Homo sapiens: one gene and its partners. The protein of the gene in region 4 interacts with the protein of the main gene of each other region in a pairwise test. Each region holds a gene or a part of one and is shown on either strand. Other genes may lie near its edges. The genes, in order: RNF111, XRCC1, SPATA2L and TDP1.

What was found.
Region 1: the proteins of TDP1 (region 4) and RNF111 interact in binary tests that used the Homo sapiens proteins (3 or more experiments, as listed by UniProt).
Region 2: the proteins of TDP1 (region 4) and XRCC1 interact in binary tests that used the Homo sapiens proteins (3 or more experiments, as listed by UniProt).
Region 3: the proteins of TDP1 (region 4) and SPATA2L interact in binary tests that used the Homo sapiens proteins (3 or more experiments, as listed by UniProt).

What each region holds. Positions count from the first base shown.
Region 1 is NC_000015.10:59,025,643-59,032,665, forward strand, and holds part of RNF111 (E3 ubiquitin-protein ligase Arkadia), read left to right. Parts: intron 1-5,161; coding exon of another isoform or gene 5,162-5,180; coding exon 5,181-6,060; intron 6,061-7,023. UniProt on the Homo sapiens protein: E3 ubiquitin-protein ligase. Required for mesoderm patterning during embryonic development. Acts as an enhancer of the transcriptional responses of the SMAD2/SMAD3 effectors, which are activated downstream of BMP.
Region 2 is NC_000019.10:43,558,507-43,565,529, forward strand, and holds part of XRCC1 (DNA repair protein XRCC1), read right to left. Parts: intron 2,515-7,023; coding exon 2,404-2,514; intron 1-2,403. UniProt on the Homo sapiens protein: Scaffold protein involved in DNA single-strand break repair by mediating the assembly of DNA break repair protein complexes. Negatively regulates ADP-ribosyltransferase activity of PARP1 during base-excision repair in order to prevent excessive PARP1 activity.
Region 3 is NC_000016.10:89,698,695-89,706,435, reverse strand, and holds the start of SPATA2L (spermatogenesis-associated protein 2-like protein), read left to right. Parts: upstream 1-4,730; 5' UTR 4,731-4,808; exon of another isoform or gene 4,809-4,945; intron 4,946-5,202; 5' UTR 5,203-5,203; coding exon 5,204-5,506; intron 5,507-7,741.
Region 4 is NC_000014.9:89,979,924-89,986,946, forward strand, and holds part of TDP1 (tyrosyl-DNA phosphodiesterase 1), read left to right. Parts: intron 1-616; coding exon 617-709; exon of another isoform or gene 710-756; intron 757-1,539; exon of another isoform or gene 1,540-1,637; intron 1,638-3,190; exon of another isoform or gene 3,191-3,353; intron 3,354-4,592; coding exon 4,593-4,760; intron 4,761-5,208; coding exon 5,209-5,287; intron 5,288-7,023. UniProt on the Homo sapiens protein: DNA repair enzyme that can remove a variety of covalent adducts from DNA through hydrolysis of a 3'-phosphodiester bond, giving rise to DNA with a free 3' phosphate.

The DNA of each region.
Region 1 (7,023 bases), on a different chromosome or scaffold from region 4:
TAGTTAAATGGTAGACATATTTCTAGTTGATTTTCTGATAATCTCTAAAACTTTTGTAGAAAAATGCCAAGTCATCTATGGCTTTTTTTTTTTCTTTTTTCTTTTGTGTCGGAATTTTGCTCTTGTCTCCCAGGCTGGAGTGCAATGGCGCGATCTCGGCTCACCGCAACCGCTGCCTTGCGGATTCAAGCGATTCTCCTGCCTCAGCCTCCCGAGTAGCTGGGATTACAGGCATGTGCCACCACGCCTGGCTAACTTTGCATTTTTGGTGGAGACGGGTTTTTTCCATGTTGGTCAGGCTGGTCTCGAACTCCCAACCTCAGGTGATCTGCCTGCCTTAGCCGCCCAAAGTGCTGGGATTACAGGCGTGAGCCACTGTGCCCGGCCGGCTTTTTTTTTTTCTTTTAAAATCTTATTTCTTTAGAGTCATGTAAGCAATCATTACATTTTTATTTAAAGTTGAAACAAGTATTCATATTTATAATTGGTGGTGAAGCATCATACCAATAATAGTGTATCACAGTTTAGAAGTAGAGTTCCTCAGAGTTGTATGGATAGTCTTAATGGGTTTTTCCTCCTTTTGCTCACATAAACTTGTTTATGATGTGAATTACTAAATCCCAACCCTAATTTTTAGTTTTGAAAGTTAGTATTTTTTTTTAGCTATCGTATTTTCTTAGTGCAAGGTTTACTAATAGTGGTGTATTCTACACTAGTATCAGGAGTAATTAGCATGCAGTCATCATGACATAGCAATGAAATGATTGGATCGATCTACACAAAGAGGGACTAGTATTATGGTTTCAGTATTGAAACAGTGTGTAACAGCAAGCCATTTATAATGTCACCAAGGAGATATATCTTGTACGCATTTGCCTCCTTTGTAAATTAGATCAGCCAATAATTTTTACAAAAATAAAAGACTAGAATATGGTTTTATCAAACAGCAAATAATTTAGAATATTATCTGTTATATTTGCTGCTTTTTAAGTTAAATGCAATACTTGTGTTTATTTCCTTTTGAACTTTCCTCTTCTAAGTTCAAAATACAGCCTGATACAATTACAGGGATGGATTTTAGAAAAAAAAATTTAGAACATGATACAATACAGCGATGGATTTTAGAAAAAAAAATAGTATGAATTACTCCCTGGGTGGGAACCTCTTAGTTATATGGGATATTAATTTTGCATTTAATGACTGCATGATATGTTAACTCAGAGAAGAGTTAACTGGTGTACAAACACACACCACAGCATACACCAAACCACCCCCCCTTGCTCTCCTCTACCCTTGTCTCATTGGACAGACTAAACTGATCAAAAATCAGAGCAGATTTAACCATAAAGAGTTGATTGCATTGTTTTGGCTTTGGGACATGAAATGATGGAAAAGAAATTGGGTTTAGTTAATTGTGCTGTGAATTGCTTCTTTGTAAATTAATGTATGGCTGCATGTTCTCAGAATTTGTCTGGTTTTTGGCAAGTTTTCATTGCTTCTCATGATCTCCATTATCAACATGAGGACTTAGTAATTACGGATGAGGAGTCTAATTTTTAAATCTTCAGCCCATAAAGACTCCAAGATCTCCTCCTCTGAAATCCACCAGAACATAACTCTGACATGGGTTTCTGGAAGAACCCCAGCTGTTTCCAACATACATCATGAGACTTCTGTTGCTGATGGAGTCTCTGATGCCTAGAAATCTTGATACTTTTCCTCTTGACTTTTTCACTTTTTTTAAACCTCTTGACTTTCTGGCAGGAGTTTTATTGAGATTTTATTTCACTGGGTTTTTAGTATATTCACAGAGTTGAATAGCTGGCACCACAATCAGTTGTAGAACATTTTCAGTTCACTGAAAATAAAAGAAATTCTATACCTTTTTTTCTTTTTTTTTTTGGGAGACAGAGTCTTGCTCTGTTGCCCAGGCTGGAGTGCAATGGCGCAATCTCGGCTCACTGCAACCTATGTCTCCTGGGTTCAAGCGATTCTGCTGCGTCAGCCTCCTGAGTAGCTGGGATTACAGGTGCCTGCCACCATGCCTGGCTAATTTTTGTATTTTTAGTAAGACAGGGTTTCTTTTCACCATGTTGGTCAGGCTGGTCTCAAACTCCTAACCTCAGGTGATCCACCCGCTTCAGCCTCCCAAAGTGGTGGGATTACAGGCGTGAGCCACTGCACCTGGCCCACCTTTTTTTTTTTTTTTCCCCACTCTTGTTGTCCAAGCTGGAGTGCAGTGGTGTGATCTCAGCTCACTACAACCTCTGCCTCCCTGGTTCAAGCAATTCTCCTGCCTCAGCCTCCTGAGTAGCTGGGATTACAGGTGCACGCCACCATGCCCGGATAATTTTTTGTATTTTTAGTAGAGATGGGGTTTCACCATGTTGGCCAGGCTGGCCTCGAACTCCTGACCTCAGGTGATCTGCCCGCCTCGGCCTCCCAAAGTGTAGGGTTTGGCCACCGCGCCTGGCCAGAAACTCCATGCTTTTCGGCCATCATAGTTGAATCCTCCGATGATCCCCAGCCCTAGGTAACCACATTCTATCTATGTAGATTTGCCTATTCCAGACATTCCATATAAAGGGAATCTTACATTATGTTATCTTTTTGACTGGTTTCTTTTACTTAGCATATTGTTTATCCATGTTGTAGCTTGAGTCAGTATGGTAGTCTGCGCCCCTGTCCAAGGGGAAACCATTCTGAGTCCCCCAGTGGATGCCTGAAACCATATAGTGTTTTTTTTTTCATATACCTACATGCCTATGATAAAGTTTAATTTATAAATTAGGCAGAATAAGAGACTAACAACAACAATAAAGTAGCAAAATTCTAACAACATACTGTGATAAAACTTATGTGAATGTGGTCTCTCTCTCATAGTGTGAGTAACTGAAGCTGTGGAAAGTTAAACTGGATAGTGAGGGACTACCGTACTTCATTTCTTTCTATTGCTGAGTAATAATCTTTTGTATGGATTTATTTATTCATCAGTTGATTGGCATTTGTGTTCCCACTTTTTTGGCTGTTATGACTAATGTTGCTGTTTATAAGTTTTTTTATGAATATGTGTTTTCATTTCTCTTGGGTACATACCTAGGAGTGGAAATGCTAGGTCACATAGCAATTTTGTGTTTAATTTTTTTTTTTTTCTTGAGATAGAGTCTTGCTCTGTTGCTCAAGCTGGACTGTAGCGGTGCAGTCCCAGCTCACTGTAACCTCTGCCTCCCAGGTTCAAGCGATTCTCATGCTTCAGCCTCCCAAGTAGCTGGGATTACAGTCAGTGCGCCACTATCCTGGCTAATTTTTGTATTTTTAGTAGAGATGGGGTTTCACCATGTTGGCCAGGCTGATCTCGAACTCCTGGCCTCCAGTGATCCGCCCGCCTTGGCCTCCCAAAGTGGTGGGATTACAGACATGAGCCACCGCGCCCAGCTTGTATTTAATTTTTGAGGATCTGCTAGACCGCTTCCCAAAGTAGCTTGTATCATTTTACATTTCCATCAGCAATATATGAGGGTTCCAATGTTTTTTTTTTATGCATCCTCTCTAACACTTGTTATTACCTGTGTTCTTTATTACAGCCATCCTGTTTGGCCCCATTCAACTCTTAGATCACATGTACCTGTGTTTTATCATTGTGACTTCTGTGTTCTTGCCTTTAATTAAAGTGATCCTTGTCTGACTGGCTGCCTTCTGTAATTTGCTCATTGCCATGCTCATGTTCACTCATCTTTGTATTCCTGGTTTATCACTGATCCTGCTGAACTACAGATAGCGCGTGATGGCTGATCTTGGATACAGCACTGCCTGTGCTTGTGAATAAGAATAAAAGAAGATAGTGGTTTTGATAGCTTTCTGTAGGAATAGGTCATTCTATGCCTTAATTATTGTCATTTGTTCTGATAGTAAAGTTATATACTATAGTAACATGGGAGACCTGTAAGATTATATATTTCTGTAACCCATTTGTAGAGAGGGAAAATACTTGCTTACTAAACAGCTGTTGTACTCGCTTTTTAGGAACTGGTTTCAAAATGTATTTTATGGGCAAAACAAATCTGTGGTGTCAGAAGTTACAATAGTGGTTAACAGTTTGGTGGGCTGTAGTAATGGGAAGAAGATTTCTAGGGTGCTGGTTATGTTGTTTATCTGTGTGCCAGTTACATAGAGGTGTTCATTTTTTTAGTGTTCATTCATCTATAAACTTAGAATATGTGTGTATGCTATACTTAATAAAAACTTGTTAAAAATATGTTAACATTGTTTATTCATGTTTTGCACTAGTAAAGCTCTTCATTTGTCACATTTACTGCCTTTCTGATTAATATATTTCATTTTGAGTCATGATATTTACTATTACATTATTTTCATATGTACATTGCATTGATGTAAATGCTTTAAATTCAGATCTCTTTTTGGCAGCTCGTAATTTAAGATGTTGAATGATTTAGATAGATTAGCTGTACAAAGTTTGATTTTATGTTCTGCTGTATTGTTTATTTAACTGAATGATCTTCAGCAGCCCACAGTCTTGGCTCTAATCTTTTTGTATTTAAAACTGAAATGCAGTAGTTGTGTCTACTATCAGGAGAATTCAGATTCTCATTAGAGAATTAATAGAGTAGTATGAAGGAAAAAAAATAGAAAAGAGAAGCTTATATTCATTAGCTCATTATTAATAATATCAATCTAATGTAGTAACCATCTAGATGTACAGAAACATTTAATAATAACCACTTAAAAATGTCATACCAGGAGTAAAACATGTTGACTAATTAGTCTTTTGAATTCGAATCCTTTTATTTATATTTCACTGAAATAGGTTTTGAAGTAATTGTTTGATTTGACCAAATATGTTTTGTTGCTGAAGGTAGTGAGATATGCAATAAGATCAGTTTTTGGTTAATAGAAGTTTTTAAGTAGGCTTATGCTCTATATCTACTGTATTTCTAAAAATTGGATGCATGAGTAGAGTGACCAGAGAAAAACGTTTTATAAGAATAGTAAAATAATTCATAACAGACATTTTGTGTACTGATGAGGAAAAGACAGTTCTGCCTTTATAAGGGATCTTCTTGGTGGAATTTGAGAACTCTTCAATTAAATAGTATAATAAAACACATTAAAAATCTTTTAAATATCTAATTTTGTCTTCTAGGCTTTCCTTAAAGTTTCCCATGTCTCAATGGACTCCTGAATATAACGAGCTCTACACCTTAAAAGTGGATATGAAGAGTGAGATTCCTTCTGATGCACCAAAGACACAGGAGAGTCTGAAAGGGATCCTTTTGCATCCAGAGCCCATTGGGGCAGCCAAAAGTTTTCCTGCAGGAGTTGAGATGATTAATAGTAAAGTGGGGAATGAATTCTCTCACCTGTGTGATGATTCTCAAAAGCAAGAGAAGGAAATGAATGGTAACCAGCAAGAACAAGAAAAAAGTCTCGTTGTGAGGAAAAAACGCAAAAGCCAGCAGGCTGGCCCTTCGTATGTGCAGAATTGTGTTAAAGAAAACCAGGGAATATTAGGACTGAGGCAACACCTAGGGACACCAAGTGATGAAGATAATGATTCCTCTTTTAGTGATTGTCTTTCTTCTCCTTCATCTAGTCTGCATTTTGGAGATTCTGATACTGTGACTTCAGATGAGGATAAAGAAGTCTCTGTAAGACATTCCCAGACCATTTTGAATGCTAAAAGTAGAAGCCATAGTGCACGGTCTCATAAGTGGCCTCGGACTGAGACAGAATCTGTATCGGGATTGTTAATGAAAAGACCCTGTTTACATGGCAGTTCGTTACGGAGACTTCCATGCAGAAAGAGATTTGTAAAAAATAATTCCTCACAGAGGACACAGAAACAAAAAGAGAGGATATTAATGCAGAGGAAGAAACGAGAAGTGTTAGCTCGAAGAAAATATGCCTTGCTACCTAGTTCTAGTAGTTCCAGTGAGAATGACCTCAGCAGTGAATCCTCTTCTAGCTCATCAACTGAAGGAGAAGAAGATTTGTTTGTTTCTGCCAGTGAAAACCACCAAAACAATCCAGCTGTTCCCTCAGGTAAAAATGTTTAAGCTGAGTAAAACATGGAACCTATTGCATTGCATTTGTGCTTAATTTTTTGTTTGTGTCTTACTGATTTTATTTAAAGGGACTATCAGGTTCTATTAACTTTTATTTTTAAGTCATATAAATTACCAATTGCAGTATTAAACCATGACTCTAATGCTAAGATAAAAATTTAAAAAATTTCTAGTGACAAAAATAAGTCAGAGTTTTTTGGGAGAATAACCCTTCATTACTTTTTTTTTTCTGAAACAGAGTCTCACTTTGTCACCCAGGCTGGAGTGCAGTGGCGCAATCTCGGCTCACTGCAACCTCCGCCTCCTGGGTTCAAGCAATTCTCCTGCGTCAGCCTCCCAAGTAGCCAGGATTACAGGTGCCCACCACCATGCCCAGCTAATTTTTGTATTTTTAGTGGAGACGGGGTTTCACTATGTTGAACAGGCTAGTCTTGAGCTCCTGATCTCAAATTATCTGCCCACCTCAGCCTCCCAAAGTGATGGGATTACAGGCATGAGCCACTGTACCTGGCCTCATTTATTACATTTTATACATATTAGATTATATTTTATGTATGTTCTTCATTTATGGTACACATTTTTTTCCTTGTGTTTCTTTAATATGCTTGACTGTTATGAATACTTTTTCAGCTACCTGTATGATGGATTCAGCCATAGTAAGAACAGTTCTAGTCACTAAAAAAGACTGGTTAATTTTTTTTCCTTTGTTTTTTTGAGGCAGCATCTGGCTTTGTTGCTCAGGCTGGAGTATAGTGATGCAGTCTTGGTTCACTGCAACCTTCACCTCCTGGGCTGAAGCCGTCCTCCCACGTCAGCGCCTCAAGTAGCTGGGACTACAGGCCCACACCACCACACCTGGCTTATTTTTGTATTTTTTGTAGAGATGGGTTTTGCCAAGTTGCCCAGGTTGGTCTTGAACTCCTTAGCTCAGGCGATCCAC
Region 2 (7,023 bases), on a different chromosome or scaffold from region 4:
TCCCACTAGCTACTTGGGGGGCTGAGGCGGGAGGATCACTTGAGCCCAGGAGGCAGAGGTTGCAGTGAGCTGAGATCATGCCACTGTACTCCAACCTGAGCAACAGAGTGAGACCCCCATCTCAAATAAATAAATAAATAAATAAATAAATACATATATACATAAATAAATAATATGGTTAAAAAAAGAGACAGTTTGGTATTGGCATAAAGAAAACTATACATATCAATGGAACAGAGAAGAGAGTACAGAAATAAACCCATACATATGGTTAATTAATTCTCAACAAGGAGTCAAAATGATTCAATGAGAAAAGGCAAGTCTTTTTTTTTTTTTCAAAGTATTTTCAGCCAGGTGCAGTGGCTCAGGTCTGTAATCCCAATACTTTGGGAGGCCAAGGTGGGAGGATCACTTTAAGCTCAGGAGTTCAAGACCAGCCAGGCAATGTAGTGAAACCCCATTTCTACAAAAAATTTTTTAAAAAATTAGCCGGGTATGGCGGCTCACACCTATAGTCCCAGCTACTCAGGAGGCTGAGGCTGGAGAATCCCTTGAGTCTGGGAAGCGGAGGTTGCAGTGAGCCAAGATCATGCCACTGCACTCCAGCCTGGCCAACAGAGTGAGACTCTGTCTTAAAATAAATAAAATAAATAAATAAGCATTGTCAACAAACATATAAAAAAGATACAGAAAAGGGCCGGGTGCGGTGGCTCACACCTGTAATCCCAGCACTTTGGGAGGCTAAGGTGGGCAGATCACAAGGTCAGGAGATCGAGACCATCCTGGCTAACACAGTGAAACCCTGTCTCTACTAAAAATACAAAAAATTAGCCGGGCATGGTGGCACGTGCCTGTAGTCCCAGCTACTCCGGAGGCTGAGGCAGAATGGCGTGAACCCGGGAGGTGGAGCTTGCAGTGAGCCGAGATCGCGCCACTGCACTCCAGCCTGGGCAACAGAGTGAGACTCCATCTCAAAAAAAAAAAAAAAAAAAAAAAAGATACAGAAAAAATAAACCTTATCCCCTGCTTCACACAATACACAAAAATTCACTTGAGATGAAACAGAGATCTAAATGTAAAATCTAAAAATAGAAAGCTTCTAGAAGAAAACATAGGAGACAGGCAGAATAACAGCTCCTCAAAGATGTTTACATCCTAATCCCTGAACCTGGAAATGTGGCAGAAGGCACTTTGCAGATGTGATGAACTTGAAGATGTTGAAATGGGGGAGATGCCCCTGGATTATCCGGGTAGGCCAAGTGTCATCATAAGGGTCTTTATAAGAAAGGAGGGCTGGGTGTGGTGGCTCATGCCTGTAATCCTAGCACTTTGGGAGGCTGGGGTGGGTGGATCACTTGAGCCCAGGAGTTTGAGACCAGCCTGGGCAACACAGTGAAACCCTCTCTCTATAAAAAATAACAAAAGCTAGCCAGGAGTGGTGGTGTGCACCTGTAGCCCTGGCTACTTGGGAGGCTGAGGTGGGAGAATCACTTGAACCTCAGAGGCAGAAGTTGCAGTGAGCTGAGAACACGCCACTGTACTCCAGCCTGGGCAACGGAAATGAAACCCTGTCTCAAAAAAAAATGAACAAAAGAAAAAGAAGGCCAGGCGCAGTGGCTCACGCCTGTAATCCCAGCACTTTGGGAGGCTGAGGCGGGCAGATGACGAGGTCAGGAGTTCGAGACCAGCCTGGCCAATATGGTGAAACCCCGTCTCTACTAAAAATACAAAAAAAAAAAGTTAGCCGGGCGTGGTGGTGGGCACCTGTAGTCCCAGCAACTCGGGAGGCTGAGGCAGAAGAATAGCTTGAACCCGGGAGGCAGAGGTTGCAAGGAGCTGAGATCGCGCCAGTGCACTCACTCCAGCCTGGGCGACAGAGCGAGACTCCGTCTCAAAAAAAAAAAAAGAAAAAGAAAAAAAGAAGGCAAGAGAGTCAGAGTTGGAGAAGTAACAATGGAAGTGGAAGCAGGCGTTAGAGTGACAGGAGTGCTGGCTTTGATGAAGGAAGGGTCACAAGCTGAGGAGGGCAGATGGACTCTAGAAGCTGAAATAGGCAAGGAAATGGATTCTCCCCTAGAGCCTCCAGAAGGAACAGGGCTCTGCCTACACCTAGATTTTAGCCCAGTGAGAGTGATTTCAGACTTCTGACCTCCAGAACAGTCGAATAATACATTTGTGTCATTTTAAGCCATGATCCAAACTTGCTCTCTTCCCTGATGTGCAGTTTACCGCCCTGTGTCTGCCTTCTGTCTCCTCCGTACACTGGGTGATCCTCCAGAGGGCAGCAATCAGGTGTGACTCACATCTGCCCCATGTCTTCCCAGCCCCAGCCCCTGGGGGAGACGGTGATGCGAGCATGAGGGGCAGAGGTCAGTATGGGATCCATCTCATAGCCCTGCTTACCTCATAGTCTTGCTCCCCAGCGCCTCCAGCTGAACTGCCCACCAGCACCTCCACGAAAGCTGAGCCATCATTCCCAATGTCCACACTGTGTATCTGCTCCTCCTTCTCCAACTGTGGGCAGAGAGAGAGGCCACTGTCAGTGCCTGCTCTGCCTCTGGGCTCACTGTGGGACCTCAGGATGAATCTCCTTTGGATCACCATGTCCCTGTAATGTCAATTCTGTGAGGGGGCACACCAGGGTTGAATGGTGCCATGTGTCCCCTCCATGCAGCACAGGGTATGGCATGGAGCAGAAACTCACAAAATAGTCACTGAATGAATGCATACGCGCCCACCTCACACATACCTGCTTCCCTGACCTCTCCAGACTCCACCAGGTCAGCTTATCACACACTGCCATAGAGCTCTCCTTGATAAGCACTTGCCAGAGTTATAACTTTATTCAAATCATCATGCAGACAAACAGCACATGTCACCCCTCACCCACAATCGCAGAGGACTCCAGGAAACCTCCCTGAGGGCAGGGGCTTTGTCCGATCTTGCTCACCGCTGGTTCCTGGGTTTGAATCCCAGCTGTGCTGCACACTAGCTGTATGACCATACCAGTTAACCTTTTGGAGCCTCAGTTTTCTCATCTGTAAAATGGGAATGACCACCATATCTAGGATCATGCACATAAATAATGGCCACAGGGCATGGCGAAGAGTAGGCAATTATCTGCTGTCAGTCAGGAGGTATTATTAGTCAGTGCTAGACAACTATTTGTTGAAAGAAGAAAAGAGCTACCTATAGGAGGGCTCATCTCAAAGGATCTGCCATTCCTGTCTGACAGATGAAGATGCAGAAAGCCGTGCGGGCCATGCGGGCACGGGAGGCAGTTAGGTTGAGGCAAGTGTCCTGCCTTCCAGTTTGGGGCTCTTTTATTAGGATCCTAGAATGACGCATTATTACAACTCTCAAAGGTACCTGGGCCAGGTGCAGTGGCTCAAGCCTGTAAATCCAGCACTCTGCGAGGCCAAGGCAGTGGACCACTTGAGGCCAGCCTGGCCAACATGGCAAAACCCCTTCTCTACTAAAAATATAAAATATAGCCGGGCATGGTGACACATGCCTGTAGTCCCAGCTCTTCAAGAGGCTGAGGCACAAGAATCTCTTGAACCTAGGAGGCAGAGGTTTCAGTAAGCAGAGATCATGCCACTGCACTCCAGCCTGGGTGACAGAGCGAGACTCTGTCACAAAAAAAAAAAAAAAAAAAACCAAGGTACCTAGTCCACCCTACACTGCCCTCTCCCACCCCTGGTGATGACAGATGCTCCAATCTGCTCTGTTGCCTCCCTGTCAGATCATCTAGACATCACCTGCACACTGCTATCAACAGGAACACCACTGTATGGAAGGAGGGAGCCTGGACTTGGGGTGAGGTAGGCCTGGGCTCAAATACAGCAATGCCATTTCCAACCTGCACAACCTTGGGTGACGTATTCAACGTCTCTGTGAGGCAGTTTCCTCACATGCAAAAAGGGAAGATGGTCATTAACAACCCTCCCTCCTTGGCCAGGCGCAGTGGCTCACGTCTCTATAACCAGCACTTTGGGAGGCTGGGGTGGGAGGATCACTTGAGGCTGGGAGTTCAAGACCAGCCTGGGCAACATAGCCAGACCTTGTCTCTACAAAAATTACAAAAATTAGCAAGGCATGGTGGCACATACCTGTGGTCCCAGCTACTCAGGAGGCTGAGGAAGGAGGATCGCGTGAGCCTGGGGAGGTCAAGGCTGCAGTGAGTCATGTTCGCATCACTGTACTCTGGGCGACAGAGTGATGAGACCTTGTCTTCAAAAAAAAACTTACCCTCCCTCTGAAGGAAGTTGAGATGACACAGAATTAACAACTATAACCACAACTGCGGCCAACATCCGAGTGCACTGAGCGCTCCTGGTGTGCCAGACTCCTGCTAATAATACATGTATCTACTCTCCTGCAATGGCTCTGCCAGGCAGTTGCTATAATTATCTCCATCTTACACATGAGCAAACGGAGGCAGGAAGTGGTTATGTAACTTCACAGCTGGTGGGTGGCAAAGCCGGACCGGAACCCAGGCAGGCTGGCAACAGTCCACGCGTGCTCCTCCATCACACCACTGACGTGCTAGAGGAGGAAGATGGTGCTGGAGGAAGGGCCTGCCTAAGGCTGAGGCCGGCAGACCTCCTGCTGACTCCCCTGCCTCCACCGCCATTCCCAGCCCTGGGCCCTGGGCAGTGTACAGTGCTGCCTGGGCTCATGAGATGTCCCAGTCTGGGCCAGGTGTGGTGGCTCACACCCGTAATACCAGCACTTTGGGAGGCTGAGACAGGTGAATCGCTTGAGGTCAGGAGTTTGAGACTAGCCTGGCCAACATGGTGAAACCCTGTCTCTACTAAAAATATGAAAATTAAAATTAGCCGGGCATGGTGGTGAGCGCCTGTAATCCCAGATACTGGGGAGGCTGAGGCAGGAGAATCACTTGAACCCGGGAGGCAGAGGTTGCAGTGAGCCGAGATTGTGCCACTGCACTCCAGCTTGGGCGATGGAGTGAGACTCTGTCTCAAAAACAACAACAACAACAAAAACAACAATAACAAGAAGTCCCAGTCTGACTGCTCCCCAGGCCAGGCTTGGTGACTTTCCACCAGCCACAACGGCCTCCCTTCTGTGCCAAGAACAGTCTGGCTCCTTCCCACCTCAGGGCCTCTGCACCTGCCAATCCCCCTGCCTAGACCACTCTTCCCTCAAACATATCCATAGCTGGGTAAAAGTTTGCCTTCTGTGCTTCAGGTGCCCACTCAGATGTCACTTCAGACCATAAGTAACCTACCTCGCCCCCTACCTGGTGCCACTCTCTATCTCCCTACCCGACTTTACTTTTCTTCATGATTACTGCCTGGTGTTACACAGTTACATCTTTTTTGTTTGTATTTGTCTAGCATCTGTCTCTCCCGCCAGACTTTTAAGCTCCACAAGAGCAAGGACAGTATCGTCTGAGTTGTTCCCTACTGTGTCCCCAAGGCCAAGAACAGTGTCTGGTCCTTCCCAGCTCTGCTGATTTCCTGCTGTGTGATCCTGGAGCAAATGGTTTCATTTCACCCCTTGTGCCTCAGTTTTCGAACCTATGAAATGGGGACAATAACAACGTCTATCTCATAAAGTTGTTGAGAACATTCAAATCCATACCAAGAATGAGAAATAACATACCAAGTGCCTGGAATACTGCCTGGCACCGAGCAAACACTACATAAATGTCAGCTGCGAATATCATTAACACAGCAGGCCTCTACTGCATTCCCAATGGATGTACAGACAGACGCAGAACAGGCGCCCAGCAACCGTTTGCAGAAGTTACTACTCAAGAGTTATTAAGCAGTAACTCTGGCTCTGTCCTCCCTTACCAAGTGGCCCTGTTGAGCCCCTTCTCTGCTGCTTGCCTGGGTGTCCCATCTGTCACAAGAGGATCATCATGGCTAACATTTTCGGATTCTCACCATGTGCCAGGTGCTTGGTGTATGAGTTTCCTGTTACTGTTGTACAAATTAGCACAAACTTTGTGGCTAAAAACACAAATTTGGCCAGGCGCAGTGGCTCACGCCTGTAATCCCAGAACTTTGGGAGACTGAGGCAGGCGGATCACCTGAGGTAGGGAGTTCGAGACCAGCCTGACCAAAATGCAGAAACTCCGTCTCTACTAAAAATACAAAATTAGCCAGGCGTGGTGGCGCATGCCTGTAATCCCAGCTACTCAGGAGGCTGAGGCAGGAGAATTGCTTAAACCGGGGGGGCGGAGGTTGCAGTGAGCCGAGATCACACCACTGCACTCCAGCCTGGGCAAGAAGAGCGAAACTCCGTCTCAAAAAAACAAAAAAAAAACACACAAATTTAATATCTTACAGATCTGGAGGTCAAAAGTCTGAAACTCGGCCTTACAGGGCTAAAATCTAGATGCGGCAGGGCTGCATTCCTTCCTTCCGGGAGCACTAGAGGAGAACGTGTCTCCTTGCATCTTCGGCTTCTCGAGGCCACCTGCCTTCCTTGGCTCACAGTCCCTTCCTCGTCTTCAAAGCTGCTGAAAGCGCTGGCATCACTCCAGGCTCTGCTTGCATCTTCACAGCTCTGGTTCCAGCTCTCTTGCCTCCCTCTTTCCCTTATAAGGCCTCTGGGGGTTACGTGAGGCCCACCAGATAATCCAGGGCACTCTCCCCATCTCAAGATCCTTAATTTAATCAAACCCACAGAGCTCCTTTGGCCATTAAAATATTTCCAGGTTCTGGGGATGAGGACATGAACATCTTTTGAGCACCACTGTTCTGTCCACCACACTTGGCTAAGCATGGGCCGGGCATCACTGAAGCCTCAAAACCACTTTAAATAGAAGGGTCTGTTACGACTCCAGTTTCACAGATGGGGAAACTGAGGCTCAGACAGGTTTAATCAATAGCTTACATGGCACACAAGCTAATAACTAGCAGAGTACTTCGGACGCAACTGCCTGACTGCAAAGCACTGTCCAATACCACCACTGTTCTCAACTCCTTTCTTTCCATCCCTGAGTCAAACTCAACATCTTTACCTCTCCCACAATATTCAGCATAG
Region 3 (7,741 bases), on a different chromosome or scaffold from region 4:
GCAGAGCTGGAGCATCTGCCCCAGCCCTCGATACGAACCCCAGCTGGCCACGGTGCCTTGGAGCTTGGGCTGCTCCGGCCTCAGCGTTGGTGTCTAGAAGATGGGATTTTAAAGTCCGCTTCATAGAATGGTGGAGATGAGCTGTGTCTTGAACAAATCCTGGCGTGGGAGCCCCTGCTGGCTTGGCATCGGGGCCACACCTGCAGCCTGCACACTGTGGGGGCCGGGAACGTCCTGGCTCAGCTGTATCCCTGGCGCTGAGACCCGGCAGACATGTTCAAGTGCTGCTGTTTGCTGTGCAGCTTTGCCCTCGCTGAGCCTGCAGCTCCCCCATAAGACAGGAATGAATAATAGCAGCTTCCTTTTAGAAATCCTACAAATGGCCGGGCGCGGTGGCTCACGCCTGTAATCCCAGCACTTTGGGAGGCCGAGGTGGGCGGATCACGAGGTCAGGAGATCAAGACCATCCTGGCTAACACGGTGAAACCCCGTCTCTACTAAAAATACAAAAAATCAGCCGGGCGTGGTGGCCCGCACCTGTAGTCCCAGCTACTCGGGAGGCTGAGGCGGGAGAATGGCGTGAACCTGAGAGGCAGAGGTTGCAGTGAGCTGAGATCGTGCCACTGCACTCCAGCCTGGACGACAGAGAGAAACTCCGTCTCAAAAAATAAAAATAAAATAAAAAGTAATGGCTGGGCGCAGTGGCTCATGCCTGTAACCCCAGCGGTTTGGGAAGCCGAGGCGGACGGCTCTTTTGAGGTCAGGAGTTCGAGACCAGCCCGGCCAACATGGCGAAACCCCGTCTCTACTAAAAATACATAAATTAGCTGAGCGTGGTGGCGGTAGTCCCAGTTACTCAGGAGGCTGAGGCCGGAGAATTGTTTGAACCTGAGAGGCAGAGGCTGCAGTGAGCCGAGATCACGCCATTGTACTCCAGCCTGAGCACAGAGCGAGACTCCATCTAAAAAAAAATAAAAATAAAACTATTCTGCATAAGCAGTGTCCAAATCATAACAAAAATCAAATGAAAAGTAAACAAGATGTAACCTTATATCCATTGGACCGGAGAAGATGAGGAAGCTGGACGATGCTGAGTACAGGAGGGGGAGGGAGCTCACGCACACTGTGGGGTGGACACGGCAGTGGCCCCAGGGGACCAGGTGCAGTCCTGGAGTCCAGGTAAGTGTGGACGGAACCTCCGACCTGGCAAGGCTGCTGCCGGTTTTAGAGGATGTATATGCAGTGGAGGCAATGGAGTGTCTGTCCCGGGAGGGCAGGGAAGGACGGAGAATCCACACGGCAGCTCATGGAGTGTCCATCCCCGGGCAGGAAGGGAGGGAGCCGTGAATGTGTACAGCCCACGTAGCCACCGCTGCCTAACAAACTACCCCAACTCAGGGGCTTAAATACTCAAGACGCCAGGCATGGTGGTTCACACCTGGAATCCCAGCACTTCGGAAGGCTGAGGCGGGGGGATCACTTGAGCCCAGGAGTTTGAGACCAGCCTGGGCAACATAGTAAGGCCCCCCTCTCTACTAAAAAGTTAAAAATTAGGCTGGGCACCGTGGCTCACGCCTGCAATCCCAGCACTGTGGGAGGCCGAGGTAGGTGGATCACCTGAGGTCAGGAGTTTGAGACCAGCCTGGCCAACATAGTGAAGCCCTGTCTCTGCTGAAAATACAAAAAGTACAAAAATCAGCCAGATGGCTCCTCAGCATCATGGGAGGCTGTTTCTAGGTGGTAACCCAATGACCAGGGGTTGGATTCATCCGAAGAGCTGTCTGCTGTCTATGGTTGGTGCCAGCTGTCGGCTGGGACCTCATTCAGGGCTGTCGGAACGACGACGTGAGGACTGGATGTGTTGCCAGGGGCTGCCAAAACGACCACAAAATGGGTGGCTTACAGCAACAGAAATGTTCTCTCTCACCATCTTGCAGGCCTGAAGTCAAAATCAAGCTGTCAGCAGGGCTGACTCCCTCTGGAGGCTTTAGGGTAGAATTCTGTTTGCCTCCAGTTTCTGGTGGCTCTAACACAGCTGTGTTACCTTCGCTCACGGCACCCTCGTTCCACTCTGCCTCCGTCTTTAAGCGGTCTTCTCTCCTGTGCGTTCATATCTAAGTTTCTCTCTCCTCATAAGGACAGCAGTCATACTGGATTGAGGGCCCATGCCAACCCAGAACAACCTCATCCTTTTTTTTTTTTTTTTTTTGAGATAGAGTCTTGCTCTGTGGCCCAGGCTGGAGTGCAGTGGCGCGATCCCGGCTCACTGCAAGCTCCGCCTCCTGGGTTGACGCCATTCTCCTGCCTCAGTCTCCCGAGTAGCTGGGACTACAGATGCCCGCCACCACGCCCAGCTAATTTTTTGTATTTTTTAGTAGAGATGGGGTTTCAGTGTGTTAGCCAGGATGGTCTCGATCTCCTGAGTTCGTGATCCACCTGCCTCGGTCTTCCAGAGTGCTGGGATTACAGGCGTGAGCCACTGCGCTCGGCCCAGAACAAACTCATCTTGATTTTTGTCTGGAAAAACTATTTCCAAAAAAGTCCCAAGAATAGGCTGCAGGTGAATGTGAGTCGCAGGTCGAAGTTGCAGGCCAAAAGCTCTGCACACGGCCGTGGCCTTCTCACTCTAGTGGCTGGGTTCTGAGGGTGTGTTAGTCCGTCCCCATGCTGCTGTAAATAGCTGCCTGAGGCTGGATAATTTATAAAGAAAAGACGTTTAATTGACTCACAGTTCCGCATGGCTGGGGAAGGCCTCAGCAAACTCACAATCATGGCAGAAGGCGTCTCCTCACAGGGCGACAGGAGCGAGAATGAGCACTGAACAAAGGGGAGAACCCCTTATAAAACCATCGGATCTCGTGGAATTCACTATCACGAGAACAGCATGGAGGAAGCTGCCCCCAAGATTTAATTATCTCCACCTGGTCCTGCTCCAGACCTGTGGGATTACAATTCAAGATGAGATTTTGGGTGTGGATACAGAACCAAACCATGTCAGAGGCCAAGGATCTCAAGACAAGGCCAGGGTATGGCATGTTTATGATTTAGCCTTGGAATTCATTCCACATCAGTTCTATTCCATGGGTTGAGGCAGGTGCAAAAACCCACCCAGGCCTATGGGAGGAGAGCTAGGCCCACTGCTGGATGGATGGACTGGTGTTGCCAAATTCAGTGAGGACAAAGGCAGAACAGTTACCTCCACCCTCCTCCGCATCAGAAGAAGAATAAAGATGAGACTTACGAAGTTAGCTGTCCTGAGGACTGGTGTGGACCCATGGTGGCACTGGGCACCAAGAGTGAGTTCAGTAAACAGTAAGTAAAAGAGCTCCCTGTCCAGAGGTGGCCACCTAGATAACTCAGGGAGATCCACCGACTGCATCACGATTTTTTTTTCCAGACATTCTCGCTCTGTCACCCAGGCTGGAGTGCAGTGGCACGATCTTAGCTCACTGCAACCGCAACCTCTGCCTCCCAGGTTCAAGTAATTCTCCTGCCTCAGCCTCCCAAGTAGCTGGGCTTACAGACATGTGCCACCACGCCCGGCTAACTTTCGTATTTTTAATAGAGACGGGGTTTCACCATGTTGGCCAGGCTGGTCTTGAACTCCTGACTTCAGGTGATCCGCCCGCCTCGGCCTCTCAAAGTGCTGGGATTACAGGCGTGAGCCACCGCACCCGGTCATGATCACTATTTCTAAGATGCCAGCAGGGAACTTCCAGGTAAAAAATCTAAGAAAAAGGGGGGACCTCGCCGCCCAGGCCCAGGGAAAGTTTCAACAAACTTGGGCCTTGGTTTTGGTGGCCTGGAGAGATGAGGGACACAGACGTGAAGTAGCAAAGCCTGCCCAAAGCGGGGGTGTGGGGTAGGGGTGGGTTTCGGCTGGGACCTCCAAGGGTCTCCCTCATCCTCCTCTACTTCTGGGCAATGCGAGAAAGTGGCTGTAGCACAGAACAGAGGAACCCGAGCGAAGAAAACGTCCCCGGGAAGTCGTGGCCCAGATTTAGCCTGGGTGGATCCGCAGCCCAGGTCAGCTTTTAGCCTAGAGAGGGGGGCGGCTTCGCCCTGCCTCAGAGACCCGCCCAGACGATGCTCTCAAGGGCTGCAGATGGCAAGTGCAGGAGGCCGGGAAGCGGAGCCAGCATAAACAGAATCTGAGGTCCCCGCATCCACCTGAGGCTGCTGTTTCAGACGAGGCTGAAAGGCTTGTCCTTCCGCCCACCTTCCGTGCCGCGGGCCCCTCCCTCAAGGGGATGGCCCCGCCCCACAGGGGAGGCCCGCCCCCGGATCCGGCCAATCCCCGCCAGGTAATGCAGGTGGCCCCGCCCCGCAGGAAAGGCTCTTCCCAGGATCCAGCCAATCCCCGCCAGGTAATGCCGGTGGCCCCACCCCCCAGGGGACGAGCCCGCGCACCTGCTTCCCCGCGGCCGGGTCGCCTGGGGCTGGGTCCCTGTCTCGTGGGGAGGAGCGGCCCAGGCACAACGTTCCCTGAGCGCCTGCCATGAGCCCGCAGCCCTCGGCCCAGCGGCGTCGTGAACGATACCGGTCCCGCGAGGAGACGGGCGACGCGGTGACAGGAGGCTCTCGGGGTGCCTCGCGCAGGGGCTCGGCCGGGCTGACACCTCCTCCTCCCCTTTCACCAGGCCCCGCCCCTCCTAAATTATTCGGAGGCGGGGCCTGCGCCAAGCCCCGCCCCGCCCCCAGCGTCACGGCCGCGGACCCCGGGCGGAGCCGACTCCCGGCGGAAGCGCGCGGCGCGCGGGGAGGCCCGAACTGATCCGCGGCGGCCGGAGACCGCTGGGGACAGACAGGTAGCGCCGTCACCCGCGGGATCCGCAGCTCCATCTGCCGGGCGAAGGGGCTCTGGTCGGGAGAGGGCTCAGCGGGCGGAAGCGCGTCTCTAGAGAAGGGTGCGGTCGATAACCGGGGGCGCCCCTGGAAGGCCGAGGTACCCAGGCTGGAGGGAGGGGCTGGAGGTGCGGGGGCGCTCAACTGGAGGGGCCTGGATCGCTGGGTGGGCGGGCAGCTGATGGGGCCGAGGTCTCCAGCGTAGGGGGTGCCGAAGATACCGGGGGCGCCCAGCCGCTGGGGGCGGGGTCTCCAGGCTCGAGGGGTCCTGGGGACGCTGGGTGAGGGTTCGGGGAGAGCGCGGCGGGCTGGGCGCGGCCTTAGGTCCCTGACCCCCCCGACCCCCGTCCGCCGCAGGATGGGCAGCAGCTCGCTGTCCGAGGACTACCGCCAGTGCCTGGAGCGCGAGCTGCGACGGGGCCGCGCGGGCGTGTGCGGGGACCCCTCGCTGCGCGCGGTGCTCTGGCAGATCCTGGTGGAGGACTTCGACCTGCACGGGGCGCTGCAGGACGACGCGCTGGCTCTGCTCACCGACGGGCTGTGGGGCCGCGCCGACCTGGCGCCCGCGCTACGCGGCCTGGCTCGCGCCTTCGAGCTTCTGGAGCTCGCCGCGGTGCACCTGTACCTGCTGCCCTGGAGGAAGGAGTTCACCACCATCAAGGTAGGCGCCAGGCCAGGAGGAGCGCGCCCCTCGTCCTGGCCTGCGGGTCGCGGGGCCGCCGACCATGGGGGACCACGCCTTTCGAGAGAGAGGGGCTTCAAGTGTCCTCAGTGCCTGGTGGGCTCCTCAAGGCTCCGAGCGCTGAGGGGTCGTGGGCGTGTGGGGGCACCCACTCCTAGGGCTGAGAACATGGGGTGGGCGAGGGCAGGCTTGGGTGCTGCCTACGGGGTCCTGCCCTGAGAGCTTGCGTCAGTGTCTTCCCTAAGAGGCCTCGCGGCCCCAGTTGCCATGGAAATCTTAGGACGGGGGCACAGAAGGGACTTGAGTTCCCATGGTCATCCTAATTCCTCCAGGTTATGGGCCAATCCCATTTGCAGAGGAGGCCGCCGAGGCTGGGAGGACTGCAGATGGGTGCATCCCTGTGAAGTCTCAGGGCTGGGCTCAGACCTAGTGAACTCCACGGCCTGGGGCGGGAGGCTGTGCCCAGGGCTGGCCTGGCCTCTCCAGGTGAGCTCCTGGCGGCAGGAGGGGGCAGGGCCGCCGGGAGCTCTGAGCTAATTCGGAAGAGTAGGAAGCCGATGACGTCACTGGGCACGTGGGCGAGCTACGCCTCCGCCGGTTGCCATGGCAGCGGCAGTCTCTCCGCGGCTCCCCGGGGACACCTGCTGGTCGGAGGCGCCAGGACTTTCATTCATGAGAGAGGACGGACAGGCCCGCCCTTGAGGCCTCCCAGGGGGCGGGGCGGGGGAATAACCGGCTTCAGTGCCGGACAGCCCTGGTTTGGACTTAGTTCTGCTGCTTCCTGGCCGCGAGGACTTGGCCAAATTAGCTAATCTCTGTCAGCCCCTTTCCTCCTGAGACAGCGACACGGGAACAGTCCAGTTCATGGGGCCAGAGGAATGAATCAAAGCCCCGAGCTCAGTGCTGCAGGCACTGGGCGCTCCACACGTGGGCCGTGTCCAGGCATTAGATGCTAGGAGTCCCGGAGTTAGGGAATTTGAGAGTCAGGAGACGCTCGCAGTGATTGTCCTGAGCTCCTTTAGTTCTTCACCTAAGTGTAGGCTAGAAAGCACTCAGCCAGGCCGGGCGCGGTGGCTCACGCCTGTAATCCCAGCTCTTTGGGAGGCCGAGGTGGGCAGATCACGAGGTCAGGAGATTGACACCAGCCTAACCAACATGGTGAAACCCCGTCTCTATTAAAAAATACAAAAATGAGCTGGGTGTGGTGGCACGCGCCTGTAATCCCAGCTACTCAGGAGGCTGAGGGAGGAGAATCACTTGAACCTGGGAGGTGGAGGTTGTAGTGAGCAGAGATCGAGCCACTGCACTCCATCCTGGTGACAGAGTGAGACTCCGTCTCAAAAAAAAAAAAAAAAGAGCACTCACCCTTCTACCGTCCCACGGCTGTCAGCCCAGTGCATGGACAGCCTCTGGAGAGCGCTGAAAACAGACGTGTCACCCCCATGGTGGAATACTACACAGCAGGGGGAATGAACGTTACAGCTTCTGTCCTTGTCTGCAAGACTGTAGTGGAAAAAAACAAAGTTCAGAACAACACGTTTAAGAGGCTACCTGTCTAGCTTTGGTTAGAGACCTTACAAAGAGGTGAAAAAAAAGGGGGGACTACCTCATACGAGGAGCAAACGAAATCTGTATTTGGGTTTGCAAAACAAACACCTGGGCAAGTACATTCAAAACTAATTAGATGAGGCCATCTCCAGGGGTGAAGGGAGCGGTGGGACAGAAGACAGTGGAATTTCTCAGTACAGGGGCTCTTCATTTTGTTCTGATTTGTGAGCTAGGTTAATGTATTCATTGTTTTTTCCATTAAATTTAAGAAATTCGGCCAGGTGCGGTGGCTCACACCTGTAATCCCAGCACTTCGGGAGGCCAAGGTGGGTGGATCATGAGGTCAAGGGATCAAGACCTTCCTGGTCAACATGGTGAAACCCCGTCTCTACTAAATATACAAAAATTAGTGGGGCGTGGTGGTGCGCACCTGTAATCCCAGCTACTCAGGAGGCTGAGGCAGGAAGATCGCTTGAACCCGGGAGGAGGAGGTTGTAGTGAGCCGAGATCGTGCCACTGTACTCCAGACAGAGCGAGACTCTGTCTCAAAAAAGAAAAAAAAAAAAAAATTCTAGGCCGGGCACAGTGGCTCACGCTTGTAATCCCAGCACTTTGGGAGCTCAAGGCAGGCGGATCACTTGAGGTCAGGAGTTTGAGACCAGCATG
Region 4 (7,023 bases):
AGCCCAGATAACACACTTTTGACAAGTGTGGCATCTATGGATACAAAAAACCACTAATGGTAATGAAGCATCTTTTAAACTTCTTAAAATTTCAACTCATAATAAGAAATACACTTTACATTTCAGTGTATTGTGCACTAACATACCTTTGTGCCAAAACAAAATTTCATGAACCAGTAATTAAATATATACAGTATACCAATTTATGCTATTTTAGTTGTTTAAAAAATGCCAGCCATGATGCAGCAAGAGGTTGTTGACCATACTTTGAATCTCAAACACCAGACCAGAAGGTTCCAACGGTCCCTAGTAGTAACAGGTAATGCTGAATAGATAATAAGGGGCCAGGCTGGAGGGATGTGAAGTGCCAGGACTGGCACTAGGGTTGAAAGTTCTTTTACCACCAAATACTCAACCTTTCTGAAAGGTTTTCATCCTATCACTTAGGCAGACTTTCATCATGGTAATGTATAGAAGGGAAGATTATAAATGTTAAGTTTGGGTAATATGAGAGTTTAAAAAAATTCCTTTAGCTATGTATTACATTTGCATTGGAAAGGTATTACATATTTTGAAAGTACTATTAATGCTTTTTGATCCTTTGCTGTTTTTAAAGGAAAATGATGCTGCTGCTCTATGAAGAAGGCCTCCGGGTTGTCATACACACCTCCAACCTCATCCATGCTGACTGGCACCAGAAAACTCAAGGGTTCGTAGGGGCCTGCTCACTTCCTGGCAGTGTGTGTGTTGATAAAGGTCAAAAGCCAGAACATTCACTTTATTCTTTTTTCTATTTTTTTTTTAAGTTGTAAAAATAACACACATGGCCTAGAAAAAGAGTTGTATGCAGAAAAAGTTACTGTATTCTTTTACTACCTGCCCCATTCTACCTTCTTGGGGTAACCAGTGTTAACAGGAGCATCATCATCCACAGCTACCTCTGCTGTACATGTAAACATACATTACTATTTACACACAGTAGTCTCTTCCTAGTTTTTAGAGAAGTGGCATCATATACACTCTACAGCTAAGTAGAGGGCACAGCACATGCAGAGATCTGAGGCAGAAAAGGGGTTACAGAATGAAAGATCTGAACCTATTGTTTTCCTAGTAGGATTTACCAGATAGCTTTTGTGATTTCTCCTTACTCATGTACCCACCTGTATTTTTGCTTACCACTTCCCAAACAGGAATCAAAGGAAAAGTTGGGGTAGGGCCTGGTCATGTTAATAGTGTGCTAAATATTTCCCCACTCCCCCAGTTGGTGTATTTTCTTTGAAACAAATTTAAGCTGGTGTCTTTTTAGAGCCTTTAGTGTGTTAATAAAGTTGTGAATCTCCAAGAGAAGAACTGAATACGAAAGCTTTTATGAACTTTTTAAACTACTAACCCTCTGTACTTGGTGCACATATGCTAGATCCAGGTTTTGATCCCCTTTTCAAGAGGGGTTTGCTTTTTAAAAGGGAGCTTTAGGGATTTGCTCAACAAGTTCAGCTATTGTTCTTGATTATGACTAACTTTAATTTTCTTTTGTTTAAGCCATTTTGTACATCTCTGCCTGTGCTAGAGAAGAGCTGGTTAACAAACAGCCTTCTGTGTTGGGAGAAACTCGGACGTTTGTCTAGCACCATTTCCAGGTTCACGTTTTCTCTGTCATCCTCCTCTGCCTCACCCTGCCCCATATCATTGCCTAGCTTGGGCTAGAACTCCTAATTTGGAGTGTATTACTTTCAGCTAAGCTCTGCTGAGCCCAGGTTACATCTTTGTTTTGTTTGTTTTTTTGAGACGGTCTCACTCTGTCACCCAGGTTACAATGCTGTGATGCGATCACGGCTCACTTTAACCTCAACCTCCTGGGCTCAGGTGATCCTCCCACCTCAGCCTTCTGGGTAACTGGGACTGCAGGCACGTACCACCACACTTGGCTAACTGTCTTTATTTTTTGTAGAGACAAGGTTTTGCCTAGTTGCCAAGTGATCCGCCTGCCTCAGCCTCCCAAAGTGCTGAGATTACAGGCATGAACCACCGTGCCTGGCCCCAAGTTACATCTTAGTTTGAGCTGAAATAGCTTTCCAGTTTCCTTCAACAGGTCTTGCTTCAACCTGAGTGCACTGCGCAGGACAAATGTAATCTCCCTCCCTTAAAGCAGTCCTTCAGAGTTTGAAAGGGAGTCTTGTTTCTGAGCCTTACATCTCTTGTTCCCTCCCCACTCCCTTGCCCCACCATAGCATGTGGCTTTGAGACCCCTAGCTGTAATTCCTGGTCGCTTTTCTATAAACATGTTATAATTTTTCAGTATCCCACTGAAAATATGCTTTTCAAAATGAAGTGTGGCTCTGACTGGTCCAGGGTTGAGGGGATAGCTGCTTGGTCTCTAAGTCTCAGCTGTAGCACTTTCTTGATCTACTGAATTTATGGTTAACTATGCCTTTGGTACCCCAAGAGCTTCTAAGCCAGTTCTCCTGAGCTGCCAGATTGGGTTTGGGGATTCATGTGGCCCTATCAAAAGGCAATGAGATTAATGTAGCTTGTTCTCATGAAACAATGTTACTAAAGGGATTTCTCAGGTTAGCTCTCAGCCTCACGTGGTTCCAAGAATCCCACCCTGGGCCTCCAGCTCCTTCTGAAGTTGGAAGCTTAGCTTACAGGCAGTAGTACTGTCTTGGGATTCTCTGGGGTGGTTGCCAGGAGGGAAGAGGCAGGGATAAGGGCTTGGGTGTTTCTTTTATTTAAAAAAAGTATTTTTTAATTTAAAATTTTGGAAAACTTATTGACTAGGTAGGAACGGTTCAAAACTCAGAAAGTACCAAGACTATGAAATCTTCCTCTGGCAGCCATCCTGGTGTGGGATCCTATTATTTCATGCTTGGCCTATATTCTACTCTCTAATGTTTTGCATTTCATGTTATTTGTGGTAATTTTAAAACTTTTGAAAGCAGTTTTTGTATACAATCTCACTTCATAATTGGTCTACTGTGGTTCTGCTAATCCCCTTCAGCTGCCTCATGATCCACCTGTTGATTTCTCACTTTTTAAAATTAGAACAAGAGTTGCATCCAAAGCTCACAGTAAAGAATAAAATAAAATTATTTGGCTCATTATAATAATTTTCTCATTTTGTGATGTGTTAAAAATGCCTCATATCTCAGCATCTTAGTTTAGAAAGTCATTTGTCTTGTTTCTCATCCAGAACTCACCTGTGAGTGAATCTCTGATCCAGGAGGAGCCTCACTCAGCCTGGGAACTTTGAGGTGCTATTGCAAGGGGAGGTCCTCCACGTCTGTCCAGCCCAACCTGGTCATTTTACACACGGAGGCAAAGGCCCAGAGAGATCACAGAGCTTACCCAAAATGGTATAGTCAGCTAGTCGATCTGGGTCCAGAACATGGGCTCCAGCCCTCATCACACCATGCTACCTCCTGTGCTAAGTGTCTCCCCAGGGTGGGAAGCAGGGGTATGAAATGCCCCTTGCTAGAAACTTGCAGAGTTGAGAAGATGTACGGCCGAGAGTCCTTGCAGTTCTGGATGCCTTCTGCCCTGGTGGCCTGCATCTTGCCAGTCTCCTTCAGGGGCTGCCAGGTGAAAGAGAAATTGGGCAGTTTCTCTTTCAGCTTAATAGATAGAACCCAGGGTGGGGAAAAGGAGAGTAGCCACAGAAGGGGAAAAAAGTAACACCTGATACTTTTGACTGCTCCTGTAAGTCATTGCTTTGCAACAGCCCAGTGAGGCAGCCTTGTTAACCCCACTTTTTTGCATTTGAAGAAACTGAAGCACAAGAGGTTTGAAGCCATTTTAGTAATCTACTGTGGAGCAGTTTATAGAAGGATTGGGATTAGATATGATTGTTTTCTATTTATGGATATAATGTAGAAGTTTTGGCAAAGAGCATTGTTTTCCTCTAGGGAAAAAGAATTAATGAAATGAAAGATGTCTGTAATGCTTCTTCAGTGAATTAAGTGTTGAAAGTTTGAGGTTATTGTAATGTCACTGAATGTGATATATACTTAATCCAGGCACCAGAAAGTATAAGACATAAAAATATGCTGCTATAGGACCTACGTTATGAAAATGGGTTTGTTAATTGAAAATAGATTTTTCACATGCACTTTTGGTATAGATAACACAATTCTTATTTCACATTTGGCTGAAGAGCTGCATTGATGCAGACAAGGGCAAATTCTTGCTTGGGATTACCACTAGTAGCATGGATTTGCTTTAACCGTTAAGAGTAGAATTCTTAACTCTTGTCATCAAGTCTTAGAAAGCAATATATAGGTGCAGAGGTAAGAGGAGCAATAAGGAAGGTTTGGCAAGTGAGAGGGAGCATGGAGGGATGTGGGTTGGAAGAGGTGGGCAGAGCCCAGGTCTTACTGAATCTTAAATTCATGGCAAGACATTCAGGAATAATTCTGAATGTGATGAGAAACCATTGGAGTGGTGTTCTCAGATTTATGTTTCATGTTTCCTAAGATTACTTACCATGTGGAGATACCGAGAATTCACCTCTTTCTTAGGATGAAGGCATAATCGATACAGAGATCATTATGATCAGTTGTGTGCCTGACTGTTAAAGGTTATTTTTTTAATTCCAGAATATGGTTGAGCCCCTTATACCCACGAATTGCTGATGGAACCCACAAATCTGGAGAGTCGCCAACACATTTTAAAGCTGATCTCATCAGTTACTTGATGGCTTATAATGCCCCTTCTCTCAAGGAGTGGATAGATGTCATTCACAAGCACGATCTCTCTGAAACAAAGTATGTGTCAGCTTATCAATTTGGGGTGCTTATGATAGGCTTATACCTTGGGAGCCTCATGAGGTCTGGCATGCAGGGGCCTGGAAAGAGGTGGGGTGAAATCTAGCCAAGCTTCAGGATGTGATGAGGGGATGAGCAGATTCTATCACATCTGTATCTTGTGGTTCTCAGGCATTAAAGTGACAGCCAGTGAATCCTCATGTTTACCTTAGCCTCCCACTGGGTTACTCTCACAATTATTGAGTTCTTTGTCTGGTACTTTACATCTTGTAGGCATTCCATCATTAGTTGATTTGCTTGAAAATGAATTTGAGAGTCAATTCAAGAAAATGGATTGGCTCTTAGATCATTTCTTGATTATATTAGTTTTCATGTGTATTTTGTCATTTTTTTTGGTGCCCAAAGCACATCACTATATTTTATAACTTGTGTTTTTATGTCTTTTTAGTGTTTATCTTATTGGTTCAACCCCAGGACGCTTTCAAGGAAGTCAAAAAGATAATTGGGGACATTTTAGACTTAAGAAGGTAACAGAACTTTTACTATTTTAACATTTTTAAAAAATTTAATGTATATTCTCTCTTTTAAAATAATTATATATTTTGATGCAGCTTCACAATATTTCTGCACAATTCTGGGCAAATAGATACTTGATAAATTGATAATTATAATTCTTAGTAATTACTGCTTTTTAATGTGTTTTGCCTCTTTTATAGCTGTAGGCTGTTAATGGCATAAATATATAGACCTTTTCTAGTTTTTATATTGTAATAAAGATAGAGGCTTCCTATTCATACACATACTGTAGCTTTGATTATAGCTTTTGATTGTTCAGCATATCAAGTTTTAAGATATAAATTCAACAAACAGAAAATGTTGAGTAAAGACTACAACTGAGCTATAATATATTTTGATTATTAAACCAGTGCCCTTAAGAAAACAAATTCAAAAATAATACTTGCTGCTGATATGAAAATGCACGAAGAAAGGTCATAAAATAAGTTGAAGATTAAAGTTTTTTTCATCTCTTTTTAGGTGGTTTACTGACCTTAATAAATTCCCTGGCCAGGTGTGGTGGCTCACGCCTGTAATCCCAGCATTTTGGGAGGCTGAGAGGGGCGGATCACAAGGTTAGGAGTTCAAGACCAGCCTGGCCAACGTGGTGAAACCCTGTCTCTACTAAAAATACAAAAATTAGCCGGGCATGATGGCAGGCACCTGTAATCCCAGCTACTCGGGAGGCTGAGGCAGGAGAATCGCTTGAACCCGGGAGGCGGAGATTGCAGTGAGCTGAGACCACACCATTGCACTCCAACCTGGGCAACAGAGCGAGACTCCGTCTCAAAAAAATAAATAAATTCCCTAAAGTGGCTTTCTTAAAAGCCTTAACCTCTTATTCCATAAACTATTTAAAGTCTAAGAATTTTCCCTTGGTTAATGAAACTTTTTATTTTAATTTCCTTTTATGAAATGAGACCACAGCTTAAAGCAGGCAAGATCTTGAAGACATCTTTATGTCTTGGCCTAGAGAGGAAGTTCAGCACATTGGCCTGTGCCCAGTCTTGGAGGCAGATATCCATAGCTGGGTTCAAACCCTGCTTTGTTATCTACAAGCCGTGTGACCTCGACTTGTTCCTTAACATACATCGGTTGTCATCTATAAAGTGGACATAATAATAGTACTTCCCTCCCGTGATTGTGAGGATTAAATGAAATGATGAATGTAAAATAGTACAGGGCACACAGTAAGTCTTCAGTGCACATACACAGTTGTTTGTGGACAAATGTCTAATGGTTTAGATAGGCTAGATAATAGCACGTATTATGTGTGATCACCATCTGATACTGAAAGTTCAACTGTATGTTAAGAGTTTTCAAACCACTTTTTACACACAGTTGCTCATGTTGCACCACAGCTTTCTTCCAGGAAGGCCGGCCGGTGATTAGGTGCCTGTTTCCACTGAAGTGTAAATCTAAGCCAGAGGCTTGTCCAGGATAGGGTGGCCCTTCAGGGGCTGAGCACTGCAGTAGAAACTGGGTGTTGTAAGTTGTCGGTTCAGCTCTGTTTCCTACACCATGCTGTACCCAAGGTGGACATGGAAACTTTGGGCTTTTTGGGAAGTGTATGTGTAAGTATTAATGCCTAACCTGTGTTAAGGAAAATAATACATATTAAATTAAACAAAACGTCAGTCAGATGAGCTACAGTTTATTTTTCTGCTCTCTCCAGCCCTCTAGGTAGGCATTCAGTACATATTTAAGT